Regions from separate parts of the Homo sapiens genome. Here region 2 is linked to region 1. Evidence: fine-mapped expression QTL. A gene starts in region 1. The other region holds a variant in brackets. All regions are shown on one strand. Distances are from middle to middle.

Region 1 (2,923 bases):
ATCACCCAGAGAGACCACAAATGGGATCATGTCTCAAAGGCTGTGGGACAGCGAGCCTGTTGCAGGTGGCTTGAACTCAATGTCCCTCCAGGTCTTGAACCTGCTGCCCCTCCTGCCTTTTAGATGCAGTAGGTTAATGGCTGAGACCTTTTAGTCTGATAGTGAGGGCACCCTTTCACTATCAGAGGCCTGAGGGCACCCCCTTTCCCCTAAGGCACAGACACACATATGCCTCTACCCACACCCCATCTGGCCATAGTCTGCCGAAAGCCTTTCTTTTTTTTCTTTTTTTTTTTTTTCTGAGATGGAGTCTCACACTGTCACCCAGGCTGGAGTATAGCGGCATGATCTTGGCTCATGGTAGCCTCCGTCTTCCAGGTTCAAGGGATTCTCCTGCCTCAGCCTCCCCAGTAGCTGGGATTACAGGTGCCCGCCACCATGCCCAGCTAATTTTTGTATTTTCAGTAGAGACGGGGTTTCGCCATGTTGGCCAGGCTGGTCTCGAACTCCTGACTTTAGGTGATCCGCCCGCCCCGACCTTCCAAAGTGCTGGGATTACAGGCGTAAGCCACCACGCCCAGCCAGAAAGCCTTTTCTCGAGGTATGCGTTACAGGCTGAGCCCAGGACAGGTGGGCTGGGCAACCCATGCTGTCAGGCCTGGCTGGAAACTCAAGAGTTCACTCCCAGAAACTAATATCACGGCACAGAGACCCTGAAAGAATCCCTCAGGAAGAAAGATTCACAGTTGCTGTGTGGCCTTACTCTCTGCTCCAACCAGAGCTAACAGAAATCTCCCACTAAAGAGGAGCCCATCCACGACAGGCTGTCCCGTGTCTTTTGGATCCCAGGTGTTCTGGGGAAACAGAAACCCAGCCCTACAAATCCAGCCTTTGGGACGGGGCAGGAGGAAGACACTCCAGAATGTGTGTCTCAGGGGAGCCCTCCTCCCAGCCCCACCAGGCCCTCCCTTCTCCCCATGGGTTCAAGCCCCTCTGGCTTCAACTTACCTTATTGCCGGGGCACATCTGGCTCTAGTCCTGCAGCTGTGAGCTCTTGAGAGGGAGTAGGCTGGTTTGGGTAGGGCTGGGAGGGCTCCTATGGCTGCAGTTCAGGAACGTGGCAGAACATACTTCAGTTTTGTTGCATTCTTCCTTTTTCCCTTTAGGAAAGAAAATAGAAGTGTAATTTTTCATTGCAGAAGTGCAATTCCACTGCTGAGAGTTTGAGAAACCCCAGCGTGGGGCCCCTTCTGAGACAGATGGCCTGCCTTCCTGGGTTTCAGTTCTGCCAGCCTCTCCTACCCCACCCCCAGGGACCTTAGGACCTGCACCCAGGGTATCTGCAAAGTTCCTCTCCACCTGCCAGTAGGATGGGGTCAAAGCAGCCCAGGCATGTTAGAAAAGAAGAGCTTTTTGGGACAGATGGCTACGGGACAGGAGAGTCCCCTGAGTGTGGGAGAATGAGGAGAGCGTTCTGGCTGGATAGAGGTTGGCCAAGGAAACTGTAGGCAACATGGCACTTCCCTGAGGGTCTCAGGAGAGGGCAGGGCCTGGGGACGGGGAGGATGGAGAGGGCAGTAAATGGCCACTCATAGAACATGATCTCTCCTGCAGAACAGTGAGAAGGTGGTCTCTCATGCCCACTCCCCATCGCCCGAGCTCTGCCTATTTGCATGCAGTTTGGAAGGGGTGAAGATGGTCGCTTGTCCAGCACTGCGGGCTCTGGCTGCCCTGGAATGTGAAGGTGCTAACCCTTCACGTAGCCCAGCATTTCATAGTCCACCAGTGTGTTCAAGTCACCTGCGTTATCTCCTAGGAGTTTTATAGTTCTATACGTACATTTTAATTTTTCTGACATGTGTAAGGTTTGTGTCTAGATTTTTTTTTTTTTTGGCTTATAGGTGTTCAGTTGTCTCAGCACCATTTTCCGAAATGACCATGTTTTTTTTCCTTCAGTGTTTTCTCTTTACTCCTTTGTCAAAGATTGGTTGACTGTATTCATGTGGGTTTATTTCTGGGCTCTCTACTTTGTATCATTGATCTATTTGTCTATTTTTTCACCAATACCTTACTGTCTTGATTGCTGCAGCTCTGTAGTAAGTCTTGAAGTTGGGTACTGCCAGTCCTTCAATTCTGTTCTTCTCTTTCAATTTTGTCTTGGCTCTTTTGAGTTGTCTGTCTATATAAATGTTAGAATCAGTTTGTTAATAGCCACAAAATAACTCGCTGGGATTTTGACGAGACTTCATCAAATCTATCAATAAAGGAGGGAAGAACTGACATCCTGACAGTATTGAATCTTCCTATTCATGGACATGGGATATCTCTCTATTTGTTCAGTTCTTTGATTTCCTTCATCATAGTTTCATGGGTTTCCTCATATAGATCTTGTATATGTTTTGTTAGATTTATACAGAAATATTTCTTTTTTGAATATTAATGGAAATGGCATTGTGTTTTTTATTTCAAATTCCACTTGTTCATTGCTGGCATATAGGAAAGTAATTGATTTTATGTATTAATCTTGTATCCTGCAATCGTCCGTTAATCACTTACTAGTTCCAGGAGCTTTTTTGTCAATTCCTTTGGATTTTCTACATGGACAATTACGTCATCTGCAAATAAAGACAGTTTTTTTCTTCCTTCCCAATATGTATACCTTTTTTTCCTTTTTAATCTTACTTCATTGGTTAAAACTTTTTGGTTAAACGATGTTGAAAAAGAATAGTGAGAGGAAATGTCCTTGTCTTGCTCCTGATCTTAGTGGGAAAATTTCTGGTTTCTTATCAGTAAGTATGATGTTAACTGCAGGATTTTTGCAAATGTTCTTTTTCAAATTGAGGATGTTTTCATTTATTCCTGGTTTGTTGAAGATATTTTGCTCTAAAGTAACCGCCAACCTAGAATTCCATGCCCAGATAAA
Region 2 (2,923 bases), 21 kb before region 1:
TCCGGCCTGGGGCCACTGTCTGTGTGCAGTTGGCACATTATCCACATACCTGCGTGGGTTTTCTCTGGGCACTCGGGTTTCCTCCCACATCCCAAAGCTATGCACATTAGGCAGAAAAAAAAAAAAGGAAAATAACAGGCATTGGTGAGGATGTGAAGAAACTGGAACCCTCATGCATTGTGGGTAGAAATAGAAAATGTTTCAGCTACTATAGAAAACAGTATGGCAGTTCCTCAAAAAGTGAAACATAGAGTTACTATATGACCCCGCAATTTCACTTCTAGGTATACACACAAACACAAAAAGGAAGGCGGGGACTCAAGTAGATATTTGAACTCTAATGCTCATAGCAGCATTATCCATAATAGCCAAAGGGTGGAAACATCCCAAGTGTCCATAGAAGGATAAATGCATAAACAAAATGTAGCGTGCATATATACAATGAAATATTATTCAGCCATAAAAAAGAATGAAGTTCTGTTACATGATACAACATGGATGAACTTTGCAAACATTATGCTGAGTGAGCTAAGCCAGAGACAAAAGGACACATATGGTATGACTCCATTTAGATGAATATCTAGGCTAGGTAAATTCACAGAGACAGAAAGTAGATTAGAGGTTACAAGGGCTGGGGGAAGGGGAAAACATTATTATTTAATGGGGATAGGGTTTCTGTTTGGGGTGATAATGCTGGAAACCGGCCCAGCGTGGTGGCTCACACCTGTAATCCCAACATTTTGGCAGGCCGAGGCAGGCAGATCACCTGAGGTAAGGAGTTCGAGACCAGCCTGGACAACATGGTGAAACTCTGTCTCTACTAAAAATACAAAAATTAGCCAGGCGTGGTGATGGGCACCTGTAATCCCAGCTACGCGGGAGGGTGAGGCAGGAGAATCACTTGAACCTGGGAGGCAGAAGTTGCAGTGAGCCTAGATCGTGCCACTCCACTCCAGCCTGAGCAACAGAGTGAGACTTCGTCACACACACACACACACACACACACACAAAATGTTGAAAACAGTGAAGATGTTCGTGCAACAATGTGAATTGTAATTACACTGACTTGAATATTTAAAATGGTTAAAATGACATGTTTTATGTTTTATATATGTATATGTGTATATATATGTGTGTATATATGTATGTATATGTGTATATTGTGTGTGTGTGTGTGTGTGTGTGTGTATTGCCTGAAGAGCTTATTGAGATTCTGATTCCTGGCACTTGCTCCCAGATTGGTTGAGTCAGGAAGTCCAGTGTGGGGCCCCAGTATGTACCTTGTTAACAAGCATCCGAAGTGCCTCTGATGTAGGTAATCCATGGCCACTTTAGAAATACAGATAGGGTATGCCAACTGGCTTTCTTGCACAAAACGAGAAAACAAAACAGTTCATGCTGCTTTTCAGAGCTTGTCCTGAAAGCAGAGCACTTTCCACACTGCGAGGAGGAAGGTATGCCACTCCATGCAGGGTCCAGGGGCTCACTGAGCCCCAGTGAGTCTGAGAGTCTGGATGGGCACATTAGTTTATCCAGGCTGAGTCTGATTATGGCAGTCTTGGGGTCAAAGGACTAGCAGTGACTCTAAAATCAACCCGGTGGCCCTGAGATCTGGGGCCCTGCAGTGCCATCTACCCATCTCTAGGGCGG[C/T]CTCAGAGCCCTGTCCTGGTTCCTTCTCCGCCCTGCATTTCTCCAGCCAGCCTCCTCTGCTGGGTCCAGCAAAGGCCAGAGGCAGGAGGTGACTCTGGGTTCTGGTTTTGTTGAAGATGGTCGTGCCTTAATGATGAGAGAGAGATGGTTCTCTCTCCCTAATATTCCCAGTGCCAGGGTCAGGTTTGTACTTCTTCCATCAGTGGTATATGATCTCTCTTCCAGTATTCTACTCCCAGTAATCGGCACAATATATTGTATATTTTGAATAAATTTTTCCTTGCCTGTAAAGTAAGCAAATTACTAGACTATAATAATGTCTAGTAATAATTACTAGACTAAAGTAATGAGACTGTCTTGGGCAATTATGAAATATCTTCTGGGCTCATCTTTGAGAATGTGTGCCAGTGTCTTCTTGCTGCCTGGCAACTCAGGTATTCTTTGAGATTGGTTTGCACTTTCACCCTGAGTCCCTTAGACACATTTTCAAAAACTATTCTAATATGTCCCATCCAGGGAAAAAGACAGAAAAGAGCCTGGCCTAGAAACTCAAATGTAAGTACAGGTCATCTTCACAAGCAAGGGAGGAAAGAGGAAGGGTCACTTTCATCCTACTGATTTTTACTGAACCCCGACCAGGTGCCAGGTCTGGACCAGCCCCCTGGGAAATGGAAGTGAACAAGACACAGACCTTCCCTGGCCTCTACCTGCTGGATACTGGTAGTATCCTCTCCCCAAGCCAGACATTGTGAAATGTCCTCTGGGGAGAGGCAAAATCCACTCCGGTTGAGAACCACTAAGTTAAAGCATGATGTGTCCATGTGGTGGCATAGTATACTCATCAGGATAGTTTTTAGAAGTCATTAAAGATGTGTACAAAAATCTTCACAATATGACACAAAGAAAAAAGTTAGATCTATAATTTTACATATAAGAATAATACTAAAAGTACCAAATATACATACACAGTACATGGAAAGAGGTGGGAAGGAAATATAATAAAACATTATAAGAATTAAGCTGGATGGTAGGATAAATGACATGTTTCCAATTTTCTATTGTAAAAAACATTTTTTCAATAAGGATCAATGTTTTATATTTATTTTATGCATTTTTTTTGTTGTTGCAATTTTTAAAACCAGGCGGGTCTTGAACTTCTGGCCTCAAGCAAGCCTCCTGTGTCAGCCTCCCAAAGCTCTGCAATTACAGGCGTGAGCCACTGTGCCTGGCCCAATGTTTCATATTTATTTATTTGTACATACAATGTTGCTAT

The links. PIP is the estimated chance that this variant, and not a neighbour inherited with it, causes the effect. A credible set is the group of variants that fine-mapping cannot tell apart.
Region 2: its variant is the best candidate, but not a certain one, in a credible set for the expression of TIFAB in whole blood (TOPMed, PIP 0.81).

What each region holds. Positions count from the first base shown.
Region 1 is chr5:135,451,201-135,454,123 of GRCh38, forward strand. TIFAB (TIFA inhibitor) reads right to left here and starts at 1,151. Exons shown (of 2, transcript NM_001099221.2): 1 at 1,009-1,151. The region is part of intron 1 of LOC124901073 (a long non-coding RNA gene); the gene reads left to right.
Region 2 is chr5:135,430,646-135,433,568 of GRCh38, forward strand. No RefSeq gene overlaps it. Among named protein-coding and RNA genes, the nearest start is that of DCANP1, 15 kb to the right of the region's middle. The variant C/T (reference allele first, on the strand shown) is at 1,651.